Linked DNA regions of Homo sapiens. The protein of the gene in region 2 interacts with the protein of the main gene of each other region in a pairwise test. Each region holds a gene or a part of one and is shown on either strand. Other genes may lie near its edges. The genes, in order: DOK6, C1orf94, TENT5D and GSE1.

Region 1 (7,622 bases), on a different chromosome or scaffold from region 2:
CACTTCTTAATTCACGACTTGTCAGCTTGATGGTCACTTTCTCTAAAAACCACAAGGGTACCTACTATCTGCATGAACTCGAGAGGTATGTGCTATATATTGCTTCGATTTTCTCTCCCCCCATCTATCCATCTATGCCCTATCTCTTTAAGTAGGAAACAAAGAACAAAGAAAAGAACATAAAACATAAACCTCATAGATATCAGGAGCAAGGTGTTGCAGGGTAGCAACTGTCTTTCACAGCCATGAGCCCAGGTTTATGAAGAATACAAAACTGACTCTGAGCTACTGGTTTTTTAAAAATATAGCCTCATGCACTGAATCTCCCATTGGGAAAATCATGATTGCATTGTTCAGAACTCAGTGAGTCTTAAATTAAGTACAATTTAAATAGCCGTGGTATCTTAATTACTTAGATGAGAATACACAAATTAGACAATTGAAATCTTTCAAGAGCATCCACATTGCTGGTAGAAGCATCAGTCATGTATCAAGAGAGCCTGGAAAGTCCTCAGAAAGGATTTACTCACGTTCGTTACATTGTTTATGAAGTCAATTTCTGTACATCGAAGAAATTTTTTGTTGTATTCCTTCTGTGTTCACATTATAAAGCATTATGGACTGTCAGGAAATTAGTGTTACATAAAGGATTTAATGGATAATTAACTTTATATTTCAGAGGTCTTCGCACTAACAACAGTGTAATTCGCAGTTTAGAGGAGTCTAGCATGTTACATATTTTCTCTGTTTCCTAAAAAAGTATCATTTGATGGCAACAATTATCAACTCTGGTGTCACATTAAAAGCACTTGAGGGAACTCTAAAGCAAACCTACACTCAACTCCAGGCAGGCCAATTCAGTGAGGAACGCCCAGGCGGAAGGATCAAGTTCTGCAGGTCACTCCTATATGCAGTCGTGGTTGACAGTGATTGTTTTTTAATAAAGGGATAGGTAATATAGATAATTATTCAAAATATCAGAAAACAACGGAATGTGTTGAGTGGACTTCACAGTGCTAAATAATTGTCCAGTTTTAAATGTCTAGAATAGTATATTTCATACTTATACATAAAATTGGTAGCTTCTAGGTAAATTCAGTATCATGACTTGGTACTAGGTGTACTTTGGTTTAGGAGACTTATATAGCTAAAACTTAAGGATTCCAAATATGTGGTGAAGTCTATGAAAGCAAGAGTAAAATGACATGGATGCTTTCTACAGAACTACCCTACGGTCTTTAAAACACTCTGGAAAATGTATTCCTATTTGCTAGTAAGTTTAAACAAAAAGGAATATTTTTCAAAGCAAGGAGACATATGTGAAAAGTATAATTTTACTCTTATTTTTGCATAGCATGTGAGAAAATTTACTAGAATTATGTAAACAAAAATAAATATAAAATTTACTGGTTGCCATGGTGTTAAAGTTATAGTTTTTATAGTTTTGGGGAAAAAATACTAACTTTCCAATTTTAGACAAATATTGCATCTATTTTTCCAAGTAAAGACCAATGTAGACATAAAATGGTTTATAGAATTAAAAACTTTCCTTGTATTCTACAAAAGCATTTTATGAACATCTTCTTCTGGTGCAGAGGTGGGGAGTGCATTCTGCTATCCACTCAGCAAAGATAGCAATTCCATGTGTATGGGTAGTAATGTGCCATTTGGAAATACATACATATTCAATATATAGCACATTATATATGTATATATGTGTGTACACACATATACATACACACATAAACATGCCAAAGGGTAGTGAGTAATCAGAAAAAAGCAATTCCATATTTACAATGGAAAAATCGTTAGGAAAAAATTACTACACACGTTTCTACATGTGTATTAGTCCATTCTCACGCTGCTGTAAGAACATACCAGAGACTGGGTAATTTATAAAGGAAAGAGGTTTAATTGACTCACAGTTCTGCATGGCTAGGGAGGCCTCAGGGAACTTACAATCATGGTGGAAGGCACCTCTTCACAGGGCGGCAGGAGACAGAATGAGTACCCAGTGAAGGGGGAAGCCCCTTATAAAATCATCAGATTTTGTGAGAACTCACTATCTCGAGAACAGCATGGGAGAAACCACTCCCATGATTCAGTTACCTCCCACCGGGTCCCTCCCATGACACGTGGGGATTATGGGAGCTACAATTCAAATGAGATTTCGGTGGGGACACAGCCAAACCACATCAACGTGTAATACATTTTATGTATAAATGTACACATTTGAATAAGAGAGTGGCATATAGGCAACTTAAAAAATTAATAGTTTTTTAATAAAGGAACATAATTTAAATACATCTATTTTGATTTAAGCCCCCTTTAAAGCAGCAAGCAACAAAAATAAGAAACAAACAAAATAATCCAGTCTCTTGAGTTAAGATCGTGCTGTGGTTGAGTACTGTCAATGCCTGGGCATTTAGCTAACACTGTCATACTATGTGAGGCATGACTATGTCAACACATACTGCCTTTTGATTTGTCAGATCCCCATTAATCTGTACAGTTTTTGTATTTAGGTTTTCTTTAAATGAACTCACCTTTCACTAAGTTGATTTAAACATAATCTTTTATAAAGCCAGGTTAAATAAAATATCATCTTCCATAAATAAAGGTAATGCTAAACTAAAGATATTTAACTATTTAAATAACTTGTAAAATTCTACCCAGACACTGTCATGTAAATTTTGAAAGGTGCTCTATTTTTTTTTTTTTTTGAAAGGAGAGGTTAGTGAATTTGTGTTTGGCATCAATGAAAATGAAATTGTGTCAATTCAGTGTGGCCTGGACAAGTATCTGCATAGTACTTCCTTATTGTGACATAAATTATTTCACTAAGTAGCATTTTTGTCTGCAATCTAAATAACTTAGCATTGAGTACAGTGAATGATTGTATCAGCTTTAAACCAAGATACCAAAGAAAGCATCTTGACTTTGAAGGGTACACATGACTGTGTTGAACTTGTCTATATATACTCCAAAGTGGTGGCTGTTCTATAACAGCTATTACACTGAACTTGAAGTTATAAACCTAGGTTTGTAGACACAAACACACAAACCCAAGCTGTGTCTCAATAACTCCAGCTGATTTGCCTTACTTCTTTTGGATTCTAGTTTATGTACAGAATGGGGGTTAAAAATTGAATATATGTTTGAAATCCTACCATAAGACTTATATAATATGTGTGATAAGTCTTTACAAGTTGTGAGATGCACAATATGTACAAAATGTAGTGAGATTATGTTACCATTATGAAGTCTCAAACTAAGCATTAATATGTCTTTGTTCCCAGTAATTTTACTGTTAAGCCAAAAATAAAAATTAACCAAGAATTATTGCAAATAATTCAGGAAAATGGCAGACAAAATATTTTGCACATGTTGAAAGGTTACAACCATCACTAATCATTGCAAGTACCATGTAAACAATAGTTTTCTTTATTAATTTCTGCTCTTGCTTATAGCAAAATATCATTACTTATTCTATCCACTTTGACTGACAGGTGCAATATTCTCATTGAGTAATAGTGTAACAATATAAAAATGAATTACTTAGAGGATAATACTGCTCTGTATCTTAAAATAAATCTAAAGAGGATTTATGCAGAAAGTTAATGAAAATGTTCCCTATCTAGAATTTGTGGACTCTGTGGACAAAGTTACAAGACCTTGAAGAAAAACAGAAAATACTGTGACTAAAGTGAGGCACAAGTAATAAAACCGAGGCTAAAGAAATCATAGTATGCTCCCTTTTAATTATTTTATCTTATTTAATAGAAATTATGTCTTCCTCAAAACCAGCACTGCATTTCAAAATATGTGAATCTAGAGATTATCTTTAAATGGTGGGACTACAGATAATTTCAATTTTGTTTGTATTGCATACCTTTTATCTTCTACAGTTTCTAAAATTGATGTAAATAGAAACAGTCCAAAGATACAAATACTTAATTGTCCTACTCAACAGTTTCTACATGGTTTATGATCCAAAGAGGGCAATGCTAACTAATAAAAATACTTTGAAAAGATGACATTTATGTCAAATATATATGCTTCATAGTAAACTATTTTTTTTTAGATGGAGTTTCGCTCTTGTTGCCCAGACTGGAGTGCAGTGGCACGATCTCAGTGCACTGCAACCTCCACCTCTCGAGTTCAAGCGATTCTCCTGCCTCAGCCTCCTGAGTAGCTGGAATTACAGGCGCTGGCCTCTGCACCCCGCTAATTTTTGTATTTTTAGTAGAGACGAGGTTTCACAATGTTGGCCAGGCTGCTCTCAAACTCCTGACCTCAGGTGATCCGCCAGCCTCGGCCTCCCAAAATGTTGAGATTACAGGTGTGAGCCACCGCACCCAGCCTAAACTAATTTTTTATTCCGTATTCTATTTTATACTGATCCAAAATATTCACCATTACTGTGCGTGTTTGAAAGACATTTAAGGAAACTGGGAATGTAGATCGTAGAAAGATATTTGACCACTGTAGCACTTCCCTGCTCACTATCTATTAATTTCAGTCATTTGAAAGATCTCTTTAAGTACTGAGTATTATCTTTGTTTTCTAAGAAAAGGAATGCCATTTTTAAAGTTCACCTTGCCAGCAGTCATCTGTAAATCTATCAAGATAAAAACTGAGATGTGAATCTTGATAACTCTCTCTGATTTACCCACCTCTCCCAGGTCTTACATAGGCATAATAATTTAATAGCAAAATCCAGCCACAATGTCTGTATTTGGTTTTTACTGTAAAAATTACCTTAATTTTCATTGTCTTTGGCTTAATTTTTGAAATTCAAAGAACTTTGGACATGTTCATATGCAGACAGAGGGATGTTTTTAAAAGGAAAAAAATTGCCAATAGAGATAGAGTTTCTAAGCATACATCAGATGTCATACACACGAACATGCAGTTGAAGATAATGCAAAATATAGGGATTGGGTAGAAGATATATAAGATCTTTGCTTACTGGAAAATTCTAAGAACTAGCATTATTTGCAGGAATATGTATAGATACAGAAGTAAGTGGCAAATCTACACACAGCGTAAGGAATATGCATAATTGTCACCATGAATAAAAATCTAGAATCAAATAGAGTTCAAATAATTGAAATTGTCATCTGCTAAATTAGTATTTAATGAGAAATGATAAATATACAAATGATAAATAAACATAGATACCACAGATCCATTTCAGAAAACAATGTCCAGGATTCACAATATTCTAGACAAGTAAAGACTGAAACACACTCATTATAACTTCTGCACCATAAATCCATATATTGGAAATTCATATACAAAGTAATGATCCTGAAATTCCTTTAGAATTTTTAAATAGTCAGAATGACTAAGTTATTTATATGTTTTATCTTAAATATATTTATTGCATCTAATTCTTGGGAAATTGGTAATGCATGCCATGCAAGATATAATCTCTCTTTACAAACTAGTTTTTACAGACTTGGAGATGAAAGAAATTGTAAAATGGTCTAAAGGACAAAATATACAAATGCACATATGCACATTTCTATTTATTTTATTTTATTTTATTTTATTTTATTTTATTTAGTTAGTTATTTTGAGACAGAGTTTCGCTTTGTCACCCAGGCTAGAGTGCAGAGGCATGATCTCAGCTCACAGCAACTTCCACCTTCCGAGTTCAAGCAATTCTCGCACCTCAGCCTCCTGAGTAGCTGGGACTATAGGCACACATCACCAGACCCCGCTGACTTTCTGTAATTTTTAGTAGAGATGGGGTTTCACCATGTTGCCTCAGCCTCCCAAAATGCTAGGATTACAGGCGTGAGCCACCGTGTCCAGCTATTTCTATTTATTTTAATCATTGAGCTTCTATAAAAGGGTGAATTTTCATAAATATCTCTCATGAACAAATACTCCGAGGAAAGCTGTTGAGAGAGGAAAGGAAAACTCACAGTGTTTACAGAAAGGAGATCAATTATCCTTAAGCCAGGAATGGAGGTGTCTTAAGGTTTTAATCAAGAAGGGAGAAAGGGCAAGAGGTAGGTGAATCCACAATAAGATGTTAAAACAAAAATATGAAAAAGCAAAATTCTCAATAGGTGCTCAGCTCATAAAGTTAGTGCTCTTCAAAACTCGCAATCTGTCCCTCCACATTTCCCTGCTTCCCCTACAGCGAAGTTGGTGCAAAGTGACAATGACTGGCCCGATGTACTCTCAGTAGCAATGATGCAGGGGTTCTTTATTATAACTAATTCAGGCTTAACACAATATGACTCTGTAATACACACACAAACACCAGTGTACACTGCCTCTTAAACTGTGGGCACTCCAAGATAATTTGATTACTTGAGTGTGTACCTGAATACACACACACACACACACACACACACACCACCCTATCCTGAGACACTCCTTCAGAACCCACACATATCAACACCAATCTCTCACCTGAGTTTGAGTAAGAAATGTAAAATGTCTGTAGAAGACACTATTTTGTCTGCATACAATGTGTCTGTGAATAGTCATGTTGATGTATTTGAATGAATTCCTTGAAAAAAAATGATGTGAGGTCTGTGTCTAGAATAAGTCAAGGTATAGCAGTCTAAAATTTGTACAGTGATATTGATGACAATGACTGTGATGATGGTGATGATGATGATGATCACTCCACAAAGCTGCATCTATTTCTGATAAATTTAGGGTCAATACACAAAGTGTTAGATTATTAATGCTTTCAGTGATTGAGTTCTTAGTTTGGCTGCAAACCAAAAACTGACTGGATATTTTGCTATATATGCCTTGCTTACTAAATTTTACTTCTTTCCCAAGCAGTGGGTAAGGGACTGTACTCAACAGGTTGCTAGCTTCCCCAGTGAGACACAGGGCAAGGGCCTTTTTGACCTCTTAAACCTGGAAGCCCCTCTGAAAGGGCTGACTTGCTACCTAGAGGACAAGAAATGCCTTACTGCCCTCATTCAAAATTGCACTTATCTGTGAAGAGCAAAGGGCACATTAGAACATTTCATCATAAATTATGTTTCATGTCAATAATTATCTCTGATGCAATCGGCCTCATATCCAGGCCTTTTTTTCTCCATTAGAATATCACAGACTTTGATTTTTGAAAGCATGAGTACTGTCCATAATAAATCAAATATCTATGCATGTTCAATTATAATTATTTATATTTTGAAATTTAGTTTTGGACATAAATCACAAAAACTCATCGTGTCCTTGGAGTTAAAAAATATGTTATTTGGAAAAGTTCATAGTTTTGAGTCCATAAAATTAGGAATATGTATTATTAACTATGCAAAGCAAATATTAATGTTTGGATAACTTCAATTTTTATGATTTGGGGTATGACTCTTTAAGGCACACAATATTTGCTTAGTTTTACTATCTTATGGGACTCACTTAACTTAGTAAGCTTCACAGAACCAGCTATGTGAAGTTTTGCCATTTAAATTCACTCTTCTGCATATTAGAATATTCTGAATAGAAAAGTATCTGACTTAAAAAAAAAGTTCCCAAAATAGTCAAGGTGAATTTAATATTTTGATTTAATTTAAAACAAAACTGTTTCAATATCTAACTTTGAAGTTTACATTTCTCAGGTAGAAATGGAGGACAAAAGC
Region 2 (7,622 bases):
TCACCTGTTGGGAGTAACATCCCAGCTGCGGGTGCAAAGCCTGCTGATAGGGCATCCTCGCTGCCTGCTGTGGGTACAGGCCCTGGGGAGAAACAGAGGCTCAGTATGGCCAGGCAAGGGGTTTCCTGCCAGAAGGCATCAGCTACTCAGCTCAGTTCCCAGACAGGACTGAGTTTGTCCCATCACATTGCTGACCAGACCCATGGGCTGTCTGAGGCCAGCTGGAACCAGGCCAGGAGAAGCAGGACTCACATCACACAGGAAGCCCCTCTTAGGCAGCCTTCACAGCCTTTCTGATGAGTGTGGGAGACAGGAGCTTCAGGAGCCTGACTGCCTCCCGAGTCCCAGATCTGTGTTTTAGTGGCTGTGTGACCTTGGGCAAATCACATCTCTGAGCCTCTTTTTCCTTCTCTAAAAAATTGCATGTGCTCAGGCCTGCAAAGCCTATGAAGGTAGCCACATTATCTTTGTTGCTGTCCACACAACTTTTCTAAATGCCTTCCCCTAATCCCATACCTGCCCCCTGAAGACACAAGGTGTCTATGCACGTCTCTACGTGTGTGTGTTGGTTTGCATCCATGTTAAATACACCTGCATGTGTGTTTACATTTGTGTCTATGCAGCTGTGTATTTCTGTGTACAAATATACAACTGTGAACCCAGGTGTGTTAGTGTTGCTGTGTATCTATGTGCCCATCCATATACCTGTGTCTGTAGCTTACGGAGAGGGGCACTGTGAGGGTGAAAGTGTTAATACATCTAAAGAGCTTAGAACAGTGCCCTGCACATAGTAAGGACTCAATGTTCAGTGTGTTTGTCATCCATCACTGCCTCCTCCCTTAAACAGCTTTCTGGCAGTTCAGCCAGATGGGAAATTGACATTTTACTCACAATTCTGTCTTGAGGTGCTCATGTGTCCACACACAGACGTAAGACACACACACACACACACACACACACACACACACACACACACCCCGCAGAACTGCTGCTGTGGCAGTGGTCAGTTCTAGTCTCAGACTCTGCCTCCACCTGTCAATCCCGAGTTTTCCCTTAAGATGAGGCTCAAAACCCAAAGTACCCCTCAGCCCAGGACATCTTCTCAGAAGATCTGCTGCCCGAGAGGCTGCCTCCATTCTCAGCTCAGCTTGTGCCAATGACCAAAGTGTTGATGATGGCTGACCCTACACCCTTGAGGGTTCCCTCATGGCCTGTGGACTTTCTGATATGGAGTCTGCAAGTAGGTCTCCCTGCTCTCCTCCTGCTCCATCTTCCAGGTCCCCAAGAGTGTACCTCTTCTCAGAGCCCCTCCTTGCTCTCTGCTCCCATGCAGGGGACACTCCTGACATTCCCATGCTCAGGCCCCTCCCACTTTTGTCCACTCCTTCACCTGAAACCACTCACCTGCTCCCCTTTACTCCAAGCTCTACAGCCCAGGGCAGCCTCTCTCTCCTGTTATGACCACTGCCCGGTCCCTGCAACCCCAGCCTCTGCCTGAACCTGGACAGAGCAGTGAGACTGATGGTGTTGCCTTACCTGTTCTCAGCCCTCCATGAGCTCCAAGGCCACTAGGCATGTTGCTAAGTGTCCCTCCTCTGTTTCGCCGCCTCCTCTGATCCCTGTTAGCACTCATCTCTGCTTTCTACAGGCAGTCGTGCGCCTGCCTGTTTCTGTTTCTATGTGTGTGCATCAAACATGCATGGATATCGTTTGTGTGCAATTGTGTGTGTGCACGGCATCATACACAAAGATCTCTGCTGGGAGCATTCCATGTCACCATTTTTGAGACTCATCGTACCCTCTTAGAGGGTGACCAGAGCTATGCCTCCAGACCGCAGAGCCTAAGTTGCAGCAGCTGAGCTTCCCTATGGGAATCTTTCATCTTCCCTCTGCCTCTTTTTCATCATCTTCTCCCTCAGGTACAGCACTGAGCAGTCTCCAGAATGCCCAGCATGGGCCATGCCATCCACCCCTCACAGGAGCCCATACAGTAGGGACAGCAGAGGGCTTAAGCTGGTGGCCCTGGTCCTCCTGGGAGCACCAGGGAGGAAGGTGCCCCTTGCTTTCTACAGCCAACTTCCCCAGCCTCCACCATCCCACACCTGCTTGTGCCAGGCTGCCCTAGGCTCTGTGGATGGCAAACAGCTGCCCACCGCTGCTCAGTCCCAGGGCGGATTCTCAGGAGATGGTGCCACACTCATGAGTTAGAAAACACTGCATGACTTCAACAACATTTCTAGTTGTTAGAATTGCAAGTTTGTAACATCACAGGCAAGGGTAAATAAACATTCACTGTTCTTTGCTTAAGCCATGGTCCCTTCCCACGCACCCTCCCTCCTTCATTGGGAGCAGAGTTCCTTTATGCCAAGTAGCCCAGGAGCCTCTGAAGCTCCTCGGTGTTGGGGACTTTGTCTTTCACATCTCTGAGTCCTCCTACCACAGAGCTCTGAGTAAATTGGATTTGGGACCTTATCTTTATTCCCAGTGCTAAACAGGGAAAAGACCAGGCTAGACTGTTCCCCATTTCTCCTCTCTGTCCCCTCAAGGTCTGTGGAGCTCTCTGACCCCATTTCCTTGGAAGATTGAGGCTGAATAATAATAAAAACCAACATCTGTGTCACAGCTTAAATTTTACAGAGTCTTTACCCTTCCATGGACTCAATTAATCCTTACAACCATATCAGTAGCTACTGCTGCTGCTGCTGCAATTATTATGAACCCATTTCACAAATGAGGAACCATGGCTCTGAGCAGCTAACCAGCCTAAGGCCTAACTTGGAAGCAGCAGAACCTTTAAAGTCAAGTCTACTGGTTTCAAAACCTGCCTGCTATTATCTCAGGCCCCTTGATCAGCTATGTTGAAGCTGGACAGCATTGTGAGATCACAGAAGCTGGGAGAAGGTAAATTATGCTGTCCTTCCTTATTACCTGGGAGGACCAATGCCTTCCACAGCCAACTTCAGCTGGGCCCATTCAGTGCTTAAACTGTCTCAAAGAACCCAGCAGGCCTTACCAGCCAGGGTCCTTCTGCTGCTTCTGCTCAGAAGCCCAGGAACCTCATAGTCAGCCCTATGATGCTAAAGACAGAGGACCGTCATGCTCAGAAAATGATATGTCCAAATCTCACCCACTCCAAAAAGTCAGAAGAAATTAACATAGCAAAGAGATGCTATCCCCACTTAATAAAGCAAACCATTGCAAATTAGTTTTACACGGTGAGCTCTGTGAGGGCATTTTAGAGTGAATCGACTTGTACTAAATGAATTATGCAGTTGTTTCCCCTTTAGAGGTGGAGATGCATAGAGCTGATCTCTGGTTTATTCCTGAACTTGCATTAGACTCCAAGCTTTTCTTAGTCATCATTTTTTTTTTTTAGAGACAGGGTTTCACTATATTGTTCAGGCTAGTCTTGAACACCTGAGCTCAAGCAATTCTCCTATCTCAGCCTCTGGTGTAGGCTGGGACTCCAGGCACATGCCACCACACCTGACTTTAGTCATCTTTGAATCCCTCCACCTAGAACAATGCTCAGCCTCTAGTAGGCTTGTAGGGAGAAATGGTTTTCAAAATTACTTAAATTAATGAGTAAATAAATACATAGAAATGAGTAAATCGTGAGTAGGTGAGTAAATGAATAGTGAATAGGCACACAAAAATGAAAGGGTAGAATCATATTGGTAAAGGAGTCAGCGAATCAATGAACAGGACATTTCAAGACCTGTGTAAGGACAATAGACTACTGATATGAACAGGTCCATGACAATAGACTACTAATATGAAACTGGTCCACTTCAGCTTCCTTCTTAGGTCACCTTTCATCACAACCTCTCACCTCCACAATGGGGTGTGAGCTTTCCCTCCCTCGGGAGGGGACGGGTACTTGTTCTCTTTAGCAAACACACACACAAACAAAAAGCTTGAAAACAAAACAGAGAGAGACTTTGCTAAGTTCCTTTAAGATTCAGAAACTAAGCCTGGTGGACCAGCTTGAAGAGTCTTTATATGCAGAAGAGCCAATCCCCTTTCCCAATAGGACATAAGGTTTGTGCTGTGTTGAAAGGGAAAGAATGACATAGGGTTCCTAGGAGTGGAGAGCGGGGAAGGGACATAGCAACAGGACAAGCCGAGTTGGAAGTATTTCCTTCTTTGCTTTCTCACTTCAGGCTGTGCTGGGCCAGGCTGGGGCAGCAAATTGCCAAGGTCCTGAGTGCACAAATTTGAGTTCCTGCCCTTCCCCATACAATGACATACAATTCTGGAGAGAAGCCAGTGCGAGGAACAGAAGACAGAAATCTTAGGCATGGAGAATCTTTCCTGAAAAAATTGAGTTCTACCTAAAGGGACTATTTAAGTTATTGGATTGGGCTAAGGCTTAAACCAGAGTGGACATTTATTTAATTTTTCCCTCCTTCTACCCAGTGGGCGGCAGCTCTTAAGGGATATTAAGTTAAATCGACAAAATAAAGAAACTACATTTTCCCTGCATAAATAAGTTCTGTGAGTAGAATTTCCAGCCCTGCTACAGGTGCTTCACTGTCCCTTTGTGTCTGGCCATTGATTTTCTCCTTTAGCTATGATCCCAAGAACAAGAATGTGTGCCAAGCCACCTTGGTTGGTACAAAGCTAAGACTGCTTGGTGTAGTTTAAGTAAGGTGGCCATATACACTCATTCCACGGTATCCTCAGAGGATTGGTTCCAAGACCACCCTCCCTCCCCTGCCCTGTGGATACCAAAATCTGAGGATGCTCAAGTCCCTGATATAAAATGACATACAAAGATGCTCAAGTCTCTGATATAAAATGGCATTTGAGGGCCGGGTGCGGTGGCTCACCCCTGTACTCCCAGCTCTTTGGGAGGTGGAAGCAGGTGGATCACATGAGGCGGGGAGTTCAAGACCAGCCTGGCCAACATGGTGAAACCCAGTCTCTACTAAAAATACAAAAATTAGCGCACATACCAGTAATCCCAGCTACTTGGGAGGCTGAGGTAGGAGAATCGCTTCAACCTGGGATGCAGAGGTTGCAGTGAGCCAAGGTCATGCCACTGCACTCCAGCCTGGGCGATAGAGTGAGACTCTGTCTCAAATAAAATAAAATGGCATATGAGGATGATCTAGTCCCTGATATACAATGACATATAAAGATGTTCAAGTGCCTGATATAAAATGGCATATGAGGATGCTCAAGTCCCTAATATAAAATGGCATAGTATTTGCATGTAGCTTATGCGCATGCTCCTGTATCCTTTAATCTCTAGATTACTAACAACGCCTAATAATGTACTATGTAAATAGTTATTATACTGTATTATCTTTTACTCGCATTATTTTTTGTTGTTGTATTTTGTTGTTGTTGTTGTTGTTTTCTTCTTCAAGTAGTTTCCATCCAAGATTGGTTGAATCTGTGGATTTGGAACCCATGGATACAGAGGGCTGACTGTAATTTGTTGTCCAAACCAGGACACTTGAGAGTGAAAAGGGATGCCATTCATATTATTCTGGAACAGAAGACCTAAATTGGGACTGTCCCAAATAATCTGGGATATATGTCATCCAACTTCAAAGGAAGTCACAGGAGAGAGGTGGGAAACAAGGACTGTGACATCATCTTCTCCTGGGAGCCCAAGCACTTAACCAGCCACAACTAGCAAAGAGACTCTGCAATAAAGAGCACAGTGTGAACTGGAATTCGGACAATGGAAAGTTAGGACTAAATATACATATGTGTGTGTGTGTGGAGGTGTGCGCACGCATGCACATGAACCAAGGGGTAGATCTGATGTGACTACAATGAAAAAAATAACCAACAAGCTGACAAGTTGACAGCGCCCTTCCATAGCCCCAGCGAAGCCTCTTGCATGTAGGGAAGGGATTCAGAGGAGTCTAAAGACTCTGTGAAATAGACCCCCTGCCAGCCACTCCTTCTCTGTGGCCAAAACCCCCGTGGATGTCCACAGGAGAGCCAGGCCAGCTCACTGACCTGATACTGCAAGAAGGTAGAGTGATTCGTGAACACTGGTGGAGGTGGATAGTTCAGGTTGAGCCAGAGTGGCTGGTTCAGGGTTGCTGAGGTCATGGCTGTAGGAAAGTGTGGAGTGAAAACATTCCCTGTGTACTTCGGGTTGTTCTTGTCAGCAACCGTCACAGGTGCGTTAACTGCAAGTCACAGGAGAGGCAAAGCGGGTCAGTGATGGAGGCAGGGAGAGGCCAGGACACCTTCAGCATCGCAACTTCCTTAGGGATTCACAGTCTCACAGGTCAGGTCCTTTAAGCTCCAAGAGGGTTCTTCAAAGTTCTAGTACATTTCCAACTATAGGTAAACATCATTAGTTCACACCTTGCCAGTTTGGAAGGGATGAAAATCCCAGAAGGTCTGGCTTGGAGCTTTTCTTTCCATCATTCACTAGTAAAGAAGGCAATTTAGCAAGGGAATACAATAAGCCAGATTGCTAGGCCTATATTTCACCTACTTACAAAATGAAATTCTTTCAACTGCTTTGGAAAAATCCAACTTTATGTGAACCATTGCTATGCCATTGGAATTCATCCTTATCAAATGATTAAAGCAGCCCCTCCCTAAGGACATATATTTGGCAACACTAAGAAACTTTCACAGGTTGTTGTATCTATATGGGAATTTTAAAAATTATATTTTAAAACATTAAATAATTCAGCATGCAGTGACTCAAAATTGGTCTAAACAAATGAAGTTAGGTTGAGTTGTTTCAAGATCAGAATCCTGGATTCTTCCTTTCTACAAGATGTTGTGGGGGCTTATAAAATCAGAAATGGGTCCTCAGTTTCCCCTTATTGGCATCCTTTTGGGAAAAGAGGTTTGACTAGAACCCTTGTAGGAAAAGAAAGCGGGAACATAATCTCAATATAGAAATAATCTAAAGCAAGGATCTTTTGTTTTGGCTTGGGCAATTTGAGAGGATATAATACATGCTGGGTCAGGGCTATATTCAGAAGTGACCATTAATAATGCTGACGTGACCCTTGAAAGCCAACTACACTTCTCTAGCAACTGTATTCCCAACAAGGGATATGGGGAGAAAGTCATTGCCCCCATTTTATGGGTTTAAAAACTGACACCTCTAGAAAGGCAGTAGATAAGACAGCCACTTGGTGACAGAGCCACCCTGAAGCCTGTGAGGGTCACTGCAACCCCCTCCCCTCCAATCCCTCCCTGGGTAGGTCAGCTCACATTTCAGCTCCGGCCCATCCACTTCCACTTTGTTTCGAAGTCTCGGCTGCCCGCTTGGGTTCTTGGTGGCCCCAAGGAACTCATAGAGCAAGTTCTTCTCGGCTGGACATGTAGGTTTCTTGGGCGGCAGGGTCAGTGATGCGGTGCCCACTGCGTCACAGCAACCCTCCTCACCACAGGCGTCCTTCTGGCTCTGGGGCCACTGGCTGAGAAAGAGGCTCCCTTGACCCTTTTTTGGCTCCTTGGTGCCAGGGCTCCATTCTGTAGCAGGAAAGAAACTGAGTCAATGCCTCTGGAAGGCCAAGTGCTGGATGCTGGAAGCACCTTTTTGTGGACTAAATGATGAATCCTCTGCAGCACACACCTGAGGCTTGGACCACTTTGGGGGACTCTCTTTCAGCCAAATACAATCCCAA
Region 3 (8,560 bases), on a different chromosome or scaffold from region 2:
TGGATACCCTTTATTTTTTTGTTGTTTGTTTGTTTTGCCTGATTTTTCTAGCTAGGACTGCCAGTACTGTGTTGAATAGGAGTCTTGAGAATGGGCATACCTGTCCTGTTCTGGTTTGCAAGGGAAATCTTCCAGCTTTTGCCCATTAAGTATGATTGGCTTTGGGTTTGTCATATATGGCTGTTATTATTTTGAGATATGTTCCTTCAATACCTAGTTTATTAAGATTTTTTAACATAAATGGATGTTAAATTTTATCAAAAGCCTTTTCTGCATCTATTGAGATTTTCATGTTGTTGTTGTTTTTAGTTCTGTTTATGTGAACATTTATTGATTTGCATATGTTGAACCAACCTTACATCCCAGGGATAAAGCCTACTTGATCATGATGGATTAACTTTTTAATGTGTTGCTTGATACGGTTTGCTGATGTTTTCATGAGGATTTTTGCATCCATGTTTATTAAGGATATTGGCCTGAAGTTTTCTTTTTTGTTTTGACTTTGCCGTTTTGTGGTTATCAAGATCTTGTTGGCCTCATAGAATGAGTTAGGGAACAGCACCTCCTCCTCAGTTTTTGGGACTGGTTTCAATGGGAATGGCACCAGCTCTTCCTTATACATTTGATAAAATTCAGTGTGAATCTGTCTGGTCTTTGTACTTTCTGATTTTTAGGCTTTTTATTACTGATTTGATTTTAGAACTCATTACTGGTTTGTTCAGGGATTGAGTTTATTCCTGGTTCAATCTCAGTTGTTGTATGTTTACAGGAATTTATCCAGTTATTCTAGGTTTTCTAGTTTGTGTGTGTAGAGGTACTCAAGGTTTTTTTCTTTTTTTTTTGTATTTCTGTTGGGTCAGTGGTAATGTCCCTGTAGTCATTTCTGATTTTGTTTATTTGGATATTCTCTCTTTTGTCTTTACTAATCTAGGTAGTTGTCTATCTTATTTATTCTTTCAAAGAACCAACTCCTGGCTTCATTGATATTTTGAATTTTTTTTTTTTTTTTTTTGCATCTGAATTTCCTTCAGTTCGGCTGTGATTATGGTATTATCTTCTGCTGGTTTGGAGGTTAATTTGCTTTTGTTTTTATTTTTCCTCTTTACGTTATGTTAGTTGGTTTTTTTTTTTTATCTTCCTAACGTTTTGATGTCATCGTTTAGTGTTATAAACTTCCCTTTAACACTGCTTTAGTTGTGTCCCAGGGATTCTGGTATGTTGTCCCTTTTTTCTTACTAATTTCAAAGAATGTCTTGATTTCTGCCTTAATTTCCTCGTTTACCCTGAAGTCATCCAGGCACAGGTTGAATTTCATGTAACTGTATGGTTTTGAGCAATTTTCTTAGTATTGATGTCTGTTTGGGGTGGGGGGTGCTGTGGTCTGAACATGTGGTTGGTATGAATTTTTCTTTCTTTCTTTCTTTCTGGAATTTGCTGAGGATTGTTTTTTGGCTGATTGTGTGGTCAATTTTAGAGTATGTGCCATGTGCAGCTGTGAATTTATATTCTCTTGTTTTTCAGAGAATTCTGTAGATGTCTATTAGGTCAATTTGGTCAGGTGTTGAGTTCAGGTCCTGAATAACTTTGTTAGTTTTCTGCCTCAATGATTTTTCTTATACTGTCAGTGGGGCATTGAACTCTCCTGCTATTATTGTGTGGTTATCTAAGTATCTTTATAGGTTTTTAAGAACTTGCCTTATGAATCTGGGTGCTCCTGTGTTGGGTGCATATATCTTTAGAATAGTTAGGTCTTTTTGTTGAATTGAACCCTTTACTACTATATCATTTCCTGATTTCTCCTTTTTGACTTTTGTTGCTTTAAAATCTGTTCTGTCTGTAATTAGTATAGCAATCCCTGCTTTTTTTTTCTATTTTCCATTTGTATGAAAGATTTTTCTTCATCTGTTTTCTTTGAGTCTGGGTGTCATTATATGTGAGATTGGTCTCTTGAGGACAGCATACCATTGGATCTTGTTTCTTTATCCAACTTTCCAATTTGTACCTTTTACTTGAGGCATTTAAGCCTTTATGTTCAAGGTTAATATTGATATGTGCAGATTTCATTCTATCATCATGTTATAAGCTATTCATTATGCAGATTTGTTTGTGTGTTTGCTTTATTGTATCAGTCATCTGTGTGCTTAAGTGTGTATTTGTGGTGGCTGGTAATAGTTTTTTTTTTTTTTTTTCCACTTTTAGCCCTATCTTCAGGACCTCTTCTAAGGCAGGTGTGGTGGTAATAAATTCCTTTAGCATTAGCTTTTCTGAAAAGAATCTTATTTTTCCTTCGCTTATGAAGCTTAGTTTGACTGGCTATGAAATTCTTGCTTTGAATTTCTTTTATTTAAGTATGCCGAATACAAGCCTCCAGTGCCTTTTGGCTTTTAGGGTTTCTGTTGAAAGATCTATTGTCAGCCTAATGGAGTTCCCTTTGTAGGTGATCTGCTCCATTTTCTCTAGCTTCCTTTAACATTTTTTCTTTCATTTCAACCTTGGAAAATCTGATGACTTTGTGTCTTGGGTAAGGTCATCATGTATATTATCTTGCAGGGATTCTCTGCATTTCCTGAATTTAGATGTTAGCCTTGTTAGTGAGCTTGGGAAATGTTCATGAACAATATCCTGAAATAGGTTTTCCAAGGTGTTTGCTTTCTCTCCTTCTCTTTCAAGGGTGCCAATCAGGTGTAGACTTGGTCGCTTTACATAATCCTGTATTTCTTGGAGGTTTTATTTATACTTCTTTAATATTTTTAAAAATTTTTTTCCAACTGAGTTATTTCAGAGAACCAGTCTTTGAGCTCTGAGATTATTTCCTCATTTTTGCCCTAAAATGCCACAATTCACTCAGTAACATAAAAATCATTCTTACTTGAAAAGGGATCTTTAATGATTTTTTTTTGAGTCAGGTTCTTGCTCTTTTGCCCAGGCTGGAGTGCAGTGGGGCAGTCATGCTTCACTGCAGCCTCGAACTCCTGAGCTCAAGTGATAATCCTACCTCAGCCTCCCAAATTGGTAGGATTACCAGTTCATGCCACCATGCCCAACTAATTTTTTAAATTTTTTTTCAAAGACAGGGTCTCATTATGTTGCCCACACTGGTCTCAAACTCCTGGCCTCAACAGATCCTCTTGCTTCAGCCTCCCAAAACTCTGGTTGATTTAAAAAGTATATGTATCCAAAATGAGTCAAAAGAGAATGACACTATTGGTCAAATTGGGAATTATGACCTTTGGAATGAATGGGGATGAAACCAGAATATTTGGATTGCTAAACAGCTATTTAGCAGTAGTTGTCTTTTGACTTCTGTTTTGTCTTTTCTTCTCCCAAAACTCCTTCCTCCTATCTTCTTTCTCACTGATACTTGTACTATCTTTGTTATTATACTGTTTTGACTTTTTATATTGGTAAAAGACATATTTTTAAATCTTTATAAAAAGATAGTTGAGAATTTGACCTATATCTGATATATGTATTTTATTTTAGAATTTGACCTATATCTGATATATGTATTTTATTTTAAACATGTAGTACTTTACAGAATTCATTATTGCTGATTAATGAAACTGCCTTATGACATTTTCAGATTTCTTTCCAATAACCCTTGCTTGTATATTAAATGGCACCCTACAAAATATCTGATTTCTTATTCTACTTAAAACCCCTCCTCCACCCCCTACCTAGCTAGCTAACTCTTTGTTCATCATGTCCATTTTATCTGTTACTCTTTTCATGAATTTCTTTGCATAATTTGTTTTTTATTTTTTTCAATGGGATCATAGACCCTACCTCTATTCTTCACATTCTTTTGAATGAGGATTGAGTTAATTAAAGCACTTAATACCTGACACATTATAAGCATCATATAATTTTTAGTTATCATTGCCATTTAATTATGTTTAAAAATTCTACACTCAAAAGTTTAAAATTAAAAACTTATATTCAGTATTATATATATCATGTAATGTAATTTTCATATCTTTAAGAAACTGTACACGTATATTTTTCTTTAAAATTAAACTCCAGTGTAACATTCTTTATATACAAGGATTAGGATTATAGTCTTAAATGTTACTAAAAATTATTTATTTCTTTGTCATATATTATACTGCCAGGAAAACATTGAGTAGGTATCTTGTTTTACCTTTGGCCCCTCCAAAATGTATTTAGTCTTTTCTATGTTTTACTGGAAAATGCTATAAATTATCTATCTTAAAAATATCACATGGATCACTGGCTTAGCCAGACAATTTTCTTCCTATATCTACCTATTTGCCTATCTTTGTAATCTTGATATTCTTATTCAAACAGTTATGTGATAGTTTCTATAAATTGGACATACTGTAACAAAACATTATTTTGAGAAGAACTCTGTCTTTTAAATGTTCTTTTTAAAAATTAGTTGTTGGCACTCAAAACAATTATACTTATCAACCATAATACTTTTTTAACTGTTTCTTTTTGAGACAAAGGCTTGCTCTGTTTCTCAGGCTGGAGTGCAGTGGTGTGATCATGGCTTACTTCAGCCTTGACCTTCTGGGCTCAAGCAATTCTCCTACCTCAGCCTCCTGAGTAGCTGGAATGACAGATATGCATCCCCACACCGAGCTAATTTCTTTTTATATTTTTTATAGAGTCGAAGTCTCTCTATCTTGCCCAGGCTAGTCTTGAACTCCTGGGCTCAAGTAATCCTCCAGCCTCAGCCTTCCAAATTGCTGGGATTACAGGCATGAGCCACCATGACCAGCCTCTTTTTAATTGTTTAAGAATTTTTTTTAAAACAAAAACATGTTCACTTGGGGGTAAAAATTAAATAGAGAATATTTTCCCAAATTCTGTATTTCAGAAATTACAACTTAATTTTGAAGTTACATGTAGGCAGTTACAATACTTACAAAACAAAAATGTTTGCCTATCTGTGTGAATCTGCATGGTTTAACTGGTTATTTTCACTATTTTTTTCTCCTTCCTCCCTCTTCACTATTTTTTAACTTAAGTTCAAGTATCTTGAGGAACCTGTTTTTAATCTTTAATATATCTAGTATAACATTGTCTTTTTTGAGATTTGGGACTCAGAATTGCCCTATTTAAATTTATTTTTTGAAAATTCCCCCATCTATAAGAGCATTAATGATGCAATAATAATATTCCTTGTCTCCTGGCAACAGTAACCCTGGAATTGCAGCAAGTGAGGTGTAGAGAATGTGTGGAGATCAGGTGATGCAGAACTCTGGTAAAGGATGTTAGTCTTCAGAGTAAGACTGTTAAATTCAGCAAAGTCTACTATCAGAAGACACGGTGAGCAATCTTGTAGAAAGGGAGTTTTTCTTTTAGTTTTAACTCTGAGCACACATCAAAATTGACGTTTAATTTATATTTTGTCCAGAAACTTATTTGATTCAACTAAAATATCTTTGAAAATTATCTCTTTCATTAATAACTGTGCCCAAAATCATGGCTGTGGTAAAACTGAACTCAGTTAATATGTTTAAAAGGGCATCAATAATTGTTTTAATATTTTATTTTCTGAACTAGCTCAAGAGTAAGAGATAAAAGACATAACTGATACGTTGATATAGTATTAAGAATTATGTTTTTTCAGAACTCTAGAGTAAGAGAGTTACAAAACTCCCTACGTCCTACATTAATTGACTGACACATTGACATCTCAATAAATAGCCTGATGATGGATTATTTTCAAACTTTAATTTGTTTCTGAAGTGAAGTATTAAAAGACTATACCTAATTCCTTTTTTGATATCAAATGTTTTTAATTACTACATACCAGTGAAAGAAAGTTATTGTCAGGTAATCAAGCATGTTTACATATCTGTATTTTTTTTATATAGTCCTGAACTTCCTTTTCAGATTATTTTTTTTCCTTTAAAGCACTCATGTCTTATCTCATTTGTATAGTTTTTGTTTGTTTGTTTGTTTTTTAGATGGGGTCTCACTCTGTCACTAGGCTAGAGTGCAGTGGCATGATCTCGGCTCACTGCAATCTCTGCCTCCCAGGTTCAAGCGATTCTCCTGCCTCAGCCTCCAGAGTAGCTGGGACTACAGGCATGCACCACCACACCCAGCTAATTTTTTTTTGTATTTTAGTAAAGACGGGGTTTCACCATGTTGGCCAGGATGGTCTTGATCTCCTCACCTCGTGATCTACCCGCCTCGGCCTCCCAAAGTGTTGGGATTACAGGCGTGAGCCACCGTGCCTGGCCTCACTTGTATAGCTTTTAAGTACCTTAAGAGTGAAGTTACCTTATTTTCCTCTAGTAGAACAATTTAATGCAAGTAAAGTTTAGAAAAATAATCAAATTAATCATAAACTGAATGGATTTTATTAAGCCAATTGTATTTTAAAATAGCAAAGACTGCATTTTGAAATTGTTTCTTTAAAGAATGCCATTATCATTCACCCTTTTTCTCCTATGAAAATTAACTGCAGATGTGAGAGAAAATATGAGGACCTGAATATCTGTAGCCAAACTAAGAGTAGAAGGTGTTGAAATGAGGGAGGGGACTTCCCCATGATAAGGAGACTTAAGGAAAAAAGTGACTAGAAAAAAATGCCACGTCTTTCAGCAAAACTGCCTTCTGAGCGTGAACTTAAATTTGTATTTGTGTTGGAAATGCTTGAAGAAATGTGAGGAGAAGGAGGAGTTATTTGTGTGTCGGGGGGTGGGAAAAAAAGTGGAGGTTACTGAGTGGGAGGTTGGGAATTCATGGGGCAAGTCATTATTTATAAGAAAAAAAGGGAAAATAGTTTTTGGTATAGGAAAGGAGAAAGGTAGTAGTATCCCATGGGAGAAAGTTCAGCAATGAAGGAGAATGGAAAGTAATAAGAGATCACCCCACCTAGGGTAGGTAGAATCCATATGATTCCTTCTTTCTTTATTTCTCTCCCTTTAAAAAAATGCCTTTCATGGCTGGGTGCAGTGGCTCATGCCTGTAATCCCAGCACTTTGGGGGGCTGAGGTGGGTGGATCACGAGGTCAGGAGTTCAAGACCATCCTGACCAACATGGTGAAACCCCGTCTCTACTAAAAATACAAAAATTAGCTGGGCATGGCAGCGCATGCCTGTAATCCCAGCTACTCGGGAGGCTGAGGCAGGAGAATCGCTTGAACCTGGTAGGCAGACATTGCAGTGAGCTGAGATCGCGCCACTACACTCCAGCCTGGCAACAGAGCTAGACTATGTCTCAAAAAAAAAATTGCATTTCATTTTATCTTTCTTTAATGGCCCCTTCTCTTGCTTGCCTACTAGCAGGCTCCCTCCTGAGCCTCACGCTAACACCACACCCCTGTAGTTTTTCTCCTTGATGGGATGGGTTTGAGGAGAGCAGCAGTTGGTGAGGTAAGTTTTAATGTCTGAGAGGGTGCGGTGAGTAGACGGGGAGAGCTATGAACAGAAGTTTTTTGGGTTTTTTTTGTTAGTAAAAGGCTTTTTCTAGAAACATTGGGATGAGTTTCTACTTTTCTCCTTCCTCAGATAGTGTTTAAGAGGGATGTGAAAGATGTATATGGTGTTGGCTATAATTCTGGAGTCCCCTTCAGAGAATACTTAATTCCTTGAGTGTTGACAGGGTTATCCACAGAGGGGTTAGTGATTTGGAATGATGTGGATAAAGCTTATGAGGTTACTGGGTTTACTGTGAGGGTCATGGCGAGTTGTACAGCATCCAGTGCAGAGAGAATGGCATTTTGGTCTCACTAGGTGGCTTTACCTCCCAGCTTGCTTGAAAGCCTGTTGTACTTCAGAGTATTCTCAGCGATTCCCTTCAAAAGGGGCTGGAGATTTCTCTGGCCAGCTTGCTTCTCTGAAATTGGTGGCAGTTTGGAGAGGCAGCAACTCTGCATCATTTACATCAGAAGCAAGAGAAGCTCACTTGGTGACTGTTGAATTCACATAGCTATAAATCTTTACCAGCTACAGCCACTGGAAGGGGCAGAGGAAGAGTAGGAAGGGGAAGTAGTACTACTGTTGTAGTTTTCCCAATGAAGCAAAATATGTAGCAGTATTTTGTTGTTTGAGATAGTATCCAGAGTTTTTTTTTTATATTTAAGAGAATTAAGGAGCGTGGACACAAGGGTGAATTTCAAGTGAAAGTTTAATAAGCAAAAGAAGAACGCTTTCTGCAGCAGACAGTGGGGCCCAAAGGGGTTCCCCACCATGAGGCCGGGGTTCAGGGTTTTTATGGACCGGGATGGGAAGGAATGTGCATAGTTTGCAGGCTGTTTTGAGGAAAGTGTGATTTAGCTTGGTCTGGGACCAATCAGGAGCTGAAGTGATGATTTATTGGGGCTACCTAGCTTGGCCCAGGACCTAGTAGAAGCTGAAGTGAAAGCTTGGCCAAAGACCTTGGCCCTGGGACCAATTAGGAGCTGAAGCAATGATTTATTTAGGCCGAGCTTACGGTTTAAAGCATGTTTAGAAAAGAAAAAAAAAAAAGTGCCCACCAGAACCTACTGGAGCACCCCATGTACATGCCCACATAAGGAGAAGAGACTATTTCCTGGAAGCCTGCTGGTTATACAAAGGACAAAGACATTTCTATGCA
Region 4 (7,000 bases), on a different chromosome or scaffold from region 2:
CGCCTTCAAACTGACGTTCCGTCCCAATGACTGTCACAACTGTGCAAGAATCGTACGCTGGTACAAGAATGGAAGAAGACAGCCTGCAGGAGGCCACATTCACAATGATGAAGACCTCGAGTGGTCGCCTCTGAGCCTGGGCAGCCCATGGGATGGTCCTGGGTGGTGGCAGGTGGGGCTATCCTTCCCTTACCACTCAGGGAGACGGCAGGACTGTCCCTCGGAGAGTTTGTCAAGGAGTCGGCCACTGCTGCTGACAGTGCCTTCTGCTTCATGGCACGGAGCATTTCAACAAGTCTCTCTTTGTCTATGAGAAAAGCAGCCTGAGATTAACGAGCCAGTTGCATCATTTTTTGGAGAGAAGGACAGCGGGATTCTAGCCGAGCCTTGAGGGGCAGGCAAAGCACTAAAGCCCGAAAAACCAAAAGCAGGTGTGATGGGGCAGGCCCAGTTGAAAGGAAGCAACCATCTCAAAGCGAGCCCAGATTGCTCTCGGCATCCACTACACAATGTCCTAGACGTGCTCCAAAGACAGCTGTCCGTGCGGTGACGACGCCTCTGTGAATCACTGTGCCCACGGACCTCGGTGGTGACGTGCGAGGATGTATTCTTATTTCAAGTCAGACAAGGTGGCCCCAACACAAAGAAACACCCCAAAGACCCAGGCCTGGCCTCTGAGGCAGGGTGCCTTCTCCCCCACTCCTACCATTACTGCCACTTCCTGAAGGGGAAAGATGACCCCACGATGTTCCACGCAGCAGATCCCTGATGTCACCCGGCCCTTCTTGACTGTGAAACTCAAGGGCTGCATCGCCCTTAATTTTTTTTCCTCCAAAAATTCAGGGAAAAAGATGCTTTGTATCTAGGGAACTGGGCTGGCAATCAACACGTCACTAGCCCGCTAAGAGAAAGGGAAAACTACTGACTGGTTAAAAGGAGAAAGTAAACGGCTACACCCTGATCAACACCTTGAAGCTGCTCAAGGTCCAAGAAGTAACTCTGCTTTCCTTCGACTTTCTCCCAGAGAGGAGGCCAGGGGCCCACGAGGACTTGAAAGCGTGCGTAAGGGGCAGGGCCAGGAACGTCAACATCTGGGCACCAAGCCAGCCTGCGCTGCAGGCCAAGGAAGCCAAAACCCTGAGCAGGTGTTGTGGCTGCGTTGTTTCTTCTGCTATATGGATTCGAGCCCAGAGGGTCTGTCCCAATGTGGCCCTGTGTGGCCAGACTGAACTGGAAGCATCTTTCAAGGCAAGCCATCTGCTCAGTGTGTGCTGCCCTGCTTGGCAGCCCTTCCCCAGGCCTCCGGCCACCAGGACACAACACCCAGCAGACCACCTAAGCGGTCCAGCAAGAGGAAAAGCCTGCAGCAGACAAACCTGGAACACCTGGCACCTCCCCTCACGCCTGGTGGTCACTGGAGCACTCGGCTCAAAGAGCGCCTTCTCGGGCGCTGGGAGATGGATGAGTGACATGGGTAGTCCTCAGGTCAAGATGGTGGGGCTCTCAGAGCAAAGCCTGTCAGGTAAGGCTGCTATGGAGGGCTTGTAAGAACAGAGAGGCTGTTCCCGGGAGCCGGGAGGAGTAAAGGGGCAGCCTCAGGCTCAGTGATCGCAGATCCTGCCTGGAGTCCACCGGCCCCACCTGCTGCTTCAGAAACCCACTTCCACCCCAGTGAGCCCCCACCTTCCTACCCAGGCGAGGCCCTACCTTTCCTCTTCTCAGCGCTGATGTGGGTCAGGTTGAAGATGGTCAGGAACTTCTTCTTTTCTTCGAAGTTGGGACTGTTGTTCATCTCATCAGGGCTGTAGCGGGTAGACAGCGCCAGTCTCGGTGAAGGCGTCTGCCGCTTGCTCTGAATTGTTGGGGGCGACGGGCTTCTCTCTCGCAGCATCCTCCGCCGCTTCCTCCGCTTCTGGGCCACCAATTCCTCCTTCTGCTGTTGGGTGGTCAAGCCAAAAAGTTGCAAAAACTCTAGCTTCTAGATTGGGAAAGAAAACAAATGAGTTTGAAGCCACTGGCAGTGGTATGCTTGCACTGTCCCGGGGTCCCCTCCTGGGGTCCTCGAAGTGTGGGCCGTAGCTGGCTGCGCCTGGTGGGAGAAGAGCTTCATGGGGCGAACCCGCCAGGACTTCGGAGGAACCTAGCAACAGTGGGGTGGACTGCAGGGTGTGGACGCTAGGAACGAGAGCCCAGCCCAGAGCATGTCCGTGGGGAGGAGAGCCCAGTACCTCAGAGGACGTGTCCAGTTTGAGGGGCGGCTGCTCGGCCACGCAACGGAGGTGGGCCCTGACCTCCTCCTCATCGCTCTCGTCGTAAGAGTCATCGAGGTCGTAGTAGTACCCTGATGGAGAAATGGTTGTATTCAGCCAGACAAAGAGCCTTCATCTGTCCAGTGGACATGCCCGCAGGGCCTCATGTGTGCAGAGCACCTATCAGGCCAGGCCTGCTGGCACCTGAACACCCTGAAGGCCAGTTCCTTTCAACCGAGGTGGAAACCAACATTAACCCAGTCCTGGGGCTTTGCAGGACCGCAGACACCAGGCTTCCCTGGGATCCATGGCTCCCAGTAGCTGGGTGGTCCCCTGGGCTGACAAGACCTCCCTCCTCCCCCTGGCAGGGAACCATTCATCACACAGGCCTGGGGCTGTGTCCACGGCAACACAGGGCTGCTTGTGCACATGCACTCCCCCATGCTGTGGCCATCTGAGTCCATCTCCTGGGAGGAGACAGGCACACACAGGCCTGAGCTCTCTAAGACACAGAGAACAATAGCAGAGCCCCTGCCCAGGGGCGCTGGGGTATCTCCCTCCTCCTTTACAAAGTGAGTAGGGGAGAGAAATTTGGCTGGGCCCTCCATCCAGCCTAGACCAACAACCAGGAAGACCGCCTGTGCCCCAGCTTCTATTGAAGAGGAGGCTGAGCTCAGCACTGGACAGGACCTGAGTGTTCAGCATCAGGAAGAAAACTGGGCTGGAGCCCCTGCTCCCCTCTGCACACTCTCGCCTGCTCGGTTGCTCTTCCTGGCTCTCTGGAGAACTCAGGGAGCCGCTGGCTGAGGACGCCCCACCCCCAAGCAGAAATAAGAATGAAGTGCCTGACCTCCTACCCTGACCCGGGGCAGTGCCAGCCGCCGCGTCCTCAACCCCTGACCCACCTGCTGCAGCTCGTGGCAGCGGCCCTGTATGTGGAGCCCCCGCTGAGCCCAGGCCGGCTCTCCTGTTATGCTGCACTATTAATATTTAAAACTATCTTATTAGCCTCCGCTCATCACTTATTCATCATGCTTGTCTGCGGAACTATCTTCACAGGCGGGCTTTGATTTGGCTTTTTGGGACAATTTGCATCGAGGCAGGACAGGCACGGGGACTAGGGTCTGCCTCCCCTACGAGGGTGTCATGCTGCTACAAAGAAGCCAGTGCACTTGCCACCTGGGGCCTGGGACTACCCCAGGCAAAAAGCAGGAGTGGACGGAGAGGGGCAGGTGGCTGGCATGCAGGCTCCCCATCCCCACTGTGCGGCTCTCCCTGAGCAGCTCGGGGCCCGCGGGGAGGCAGACCTTTCTCCTGGGCCTCCCGCCGCCTGCGCTCCTCCAGGTCCAGCTTGCTGACCAGCCTCCGGCGCTGCTGCAGGAACTCATCATAGATGTAGGCAGGGTCGGGGGCCCGTGGCACTGGGGGCCGGTAGGGCGAGCCAGGCTTCAGGGGTCCGCTGAGCTCCCCGAAGGTGGCCGCCTGTGGGAGGGAGGCCCGCTGCTGGCCCAGGATGGTCTGGGTGGACTTCTCGAGCTCAGCCAGGAAGGGCCCGGGCCCGGGCAGGAAGGGCTGGTGCTCCAGGCTCCCTCCCTCTCGTGGTGGCGGCGGAGGTGGCTGGTACTTGTCCAGAGGGGCAGGCTCACGCTTCCGTGGCCCCTCCTCTGCTTTCTCCGGGCAGAAGACCCGCTCCACCTTCACCAGCGGCACGGCTGCCTGGCGGCTGGGCTCAAATGCAGCCGGGTGGCTGTGCAGAGAGTGGCTTTCGGCCCGCCGCGTCTCCAAGGTGTTGTCCATCAGGGACACGGGGTTCCAGAGGGCCGTGGGTGCAGCATGGAGCTGGGGCTTGGGCGAAATCAGAGGTGGTGGCCCCCCAAAGTGCTGCGGAGGGTCACGGCCACCTGGCTCGTGACGGTTTGGTCCTGGCCTAGGGAGTGAAACCAACCCTTCAGTCAGGGAGAAAAGACCCTTCAGTCATCCACAGGCTTCCCTGGCTGCCTGCCGCTCCTAAGATGACACAGATGGCGCAGCCCCTTAGAGAGCCAGTGCCAACAGGGCTGCAGGGAGGGGACACACACTCCACCCCAAGGATCATTGTTTCTGTCTTTCATTTTCTCTTTTCCTTTCTTTTCTTTAAAGACTCGGCCGGGCGCAGTGGCTCATCCCTGTAATCCCAGCACTTTGGGAGGCCGAGGAGGGTGGATCACAAGGTCAGCAGTTTGAGACCAGCCTGGCCAACATGGTGAAACCCCATCTCTACTAAAAAATACAAAAATTAGCCAGGCATGGTGGCGGGTGCCTGTAATCCCAGCTACTCCAGAGGCTGAGGCAGGAGAACTGCTTGAACCCAGGAGGCAGACGTTGCAGTGAGCTGAGACCGTGCCATTGCACTCCAGCCTAGGCGACAGAGCAAGACTCCGTCTCAAAAAAAACAAAAAAAAAGACTCACTCTGTCACCCAGGCAGGAGTGCAGTGGGGCAAGCTCAGCTCACTGCAACCTCCGCCTACCAGGTTCAAGCGCTTCTCCAGCTTCAGCCTCCCGAGTAGCTGGGATTACAGGCGTGTGCCACCATGCCCAGCTACTAATTTTTCCTATTTAGTAGAGATAGGGTTTCACCAAGTTGGCCAGACTGCTCTCGAATTCCTGACCTCAAGTGATCCACCTGCCTTGGCCTCCCGAAGTGCTGGGATTACAGGAGTGAGCCACTGTGCCCGGCCCTCCAACACCTGCGGCAGGTGTGTGCAGGCTGCTCCAAGAGGATAGGGAGGCTCCCAGCCTAAGCTGCTAGGGAAGGCAGAGACCCTCTCAGGCCTGGGACAGATCCAGTTTCGGTCGATTTTCCCACCTGCTTGCGTGAATTCCCCTAAGGGCAAGCGCTCATCCGCACTTTCCATGGGGAAACCCACTCTATATACTGGGCTGTGGCCCTGCCACCAGCACCCTCTCCTCCTGCTGTGCCTTGTAGGGACACATGACACAGGGCAGGCTGGCCACCTTCACAGGGCAGTACTCCTCCCTCCCCACTGTCCCCGCAGGCAGCCACAAGACAACCTTCCAGTGTCTGCCCAGCCAGAGCCAAACCCACTGTGAAATGAAGATCCTCCCAGTCAGGATGGGGCCTGTGCCGAGACTGCCCCCCAGTGGCCCCTGTCACAACTGCAGCGACCCCACTGCCCAAGTGGCCTGTGGCAGAGGCCTCAAAGTGTCTTCAAGGACCCAGGCTAAGGCCTGCTGAGGCAGGGAGGGAAAGAAGGGATTTCTAACATCAGAACCCTTCCATTAAACAAGAAGCTGCCCCTTAGTTACACTAAATGGCTTGTTTCCTCAGTGCAATTAAAACAAGATTTAATCTACTCACAGGGCTATTTTTAGTATTGTTTTTCCAGCTTATTTTTAAGAGATGGGTCTCGCTGTGTTACCCAGGCTGGAGTGCAGTGGCTATTTACAGGAGCAATCCCACTACTGATCAGCGCGGGAGTTTTGACATGCTCCATTTCCGACCTGCCCTGGTTCACCCCTCCTTAGGCAACCTGGTGGTCCCCCGCTCCCAGGAGGTCACCATATTTGTGCTGGACTTAGCTGGGACACCTAGTGGGTATAGTACACTACAGCCGAGAACTCCCGGGCTCAAGCGATCATCCCATCTCAGCCTCCAGAGTAGTTGGGCCTACAGGCATGTGTCACTGTGCCTGGCTATCTTTCTTTTTTTTAAAGGGAGATATACTCACAGGATGTCTGGACCAATACTGTGCAGAGACCCTGGGCAAAGCTTGAGGGGAAGAAAGAGGCAGAGGCCACAGCAGGCACACGGCCGGGCTCAGGGATCTCTAGCCTGCCCCGGGAGCCCTGTTTAAACACAGCCACCAAGGCTCTCCCTAGTTATTCCAGACTCCAGGCCAAGGGACAAATCCGACGCTGCTGTCCCTCTTAGCAGAATACAACAGGGAACCACAGGAAGAAGCTGTGTCCTTAAGTAAACAGCAAGGGAATGAAACCTGCAGGAGAATAAATATTTCATGCGCCACACCAAGCACTGAACAGTTTTCTAGCTTGGAGCATGAGGGCCCTGTCAGGCCCCCAAGTTCACAATGCTGTAAGGCCACGTGTGCAGCCGGCCACAGGGGAACCACCGCAGCCAGGGGAGGCCAGGCCCTGCTTCCCATCATGCCCCAGGTCCGGATGGGGCAGCTACACTGGCTGGAAGCAGTCCATGGGTGGGCAAAGTCACAACACCTGTGCTGGGGCCCTGGGGAGCCCTGAGGAAGAAGATGCCTACAGGAGTCAGGGCACCCTGATGTTATCAGGCCATGCCAGGTAGGAGCTGGCTGCCCTCAGTCCTCTGGGTAGTAGGCAAGGCTGAGCCTGAGAGGCCTCAGGGACGGGGGCTGGGAGAGGCAGAAGGGATCTCACTTCGGCCGTGCCGGGCAGTGTGAGCCACAGGGAGACTTAGCTGTGGCCTGGTGACAGTCACTCCCAGTCATCCCTGATCAGCGGGGGCGCATTCCCTCGCTGCCCTACTGGATAACGGAGGCAGGCAGAAGGGAGGACAGATTTTAAACCACCAACACGCTTCCGTCCCAGAGCCCAAGGGTTTCTTATCCCAGGACAGCATCACAGCCTTGAGAGCTGGAAAGATGCTCAGAAATCATCCTACCCACCCTCCTTTGTGGACAGTTGAGGAAAGTGAGGCTCAGGGAACAGAATCAGTGTCCCTAGGTCCCTGAGCTGGGCCTGGAGCAGAGCTATGGAA

What was found.
Region 1: the proteins of C1orf94 (region 2) and DOK6 interact in binary tests that used the Homo sapiens proteins (3 or more experiments, as listed by UniProt).
Region 3: the proteins of C1orf94 (region 2) and TENT5D interact in binary tests that used the Homo sapiens proteins (3 or more experiments, as listed by UniProt).
Region 4: the proteins of C1orf94 (region 2) and GSE1 interact in binary tests that used the Homo sapiens proteins (3 or more experiments, as listed by UniProt).

The regions. Positions count from the first base shown.
Region 1 is NC_000018.10:69,403,541-69,411,162, reverse strand, and holds part of DOK6 (docking protein 6), read right to left. Parts: intron 1-7,622. UniProt on the Homo sapiens protein: DOK proteins are enzymatically inert adaptor or scaffolding proteins. They provide a docking platform for the assembly of multimolecular signaling complexes. DOK6 promotes Ret-mediated neurite growth. May have a role in brain development and/or maintenance.
Region 2 is NC_000001.11:34,200,617-34,208,238, reverse strand, and holds part of C1orf94 (uncharacterized protein C1orf94), read right to left. Parts: intron 7,468-7,622; coding exon 7,207-7,467; intron 6,156-7,206; coding exon 5,980-6,155; intron 83-5,979; coding exon 5-82; intron 1-4.
Region 3 is NC_000023.11:80,415,269-80,423,828, forward strand, and holds the start of TENT5D (terminal nucleotidyltransferase 5D), read left to right. Parts: upstream 1-5,178; 5' UTR 5,179-5,295; intron 5,296-8,560. UniProt on the Homo sapiens protein: Catalyzes the transfer of one adenosine molecule from an ATP to an mRNA poly(A) tail bearing a 3'-OH terminal group.
Region 4 is NC_000016.10:85,658,322-85,665,321, reverse strand, and holds part of GSE1 (genetic suppressor element 1), read right to left. Parts: intron 5,945-7,000; exon of another isoform or gene 5,647-5,944; intron 4,177-5,646; coding exon 3,557-4,176; intron 2,342-3,556; coding exon 2,229-2,341; intron 1,979-2,228; coding exon 1,708-1,978; intron 308-1,707; coding exon 194-307; intron 1-193.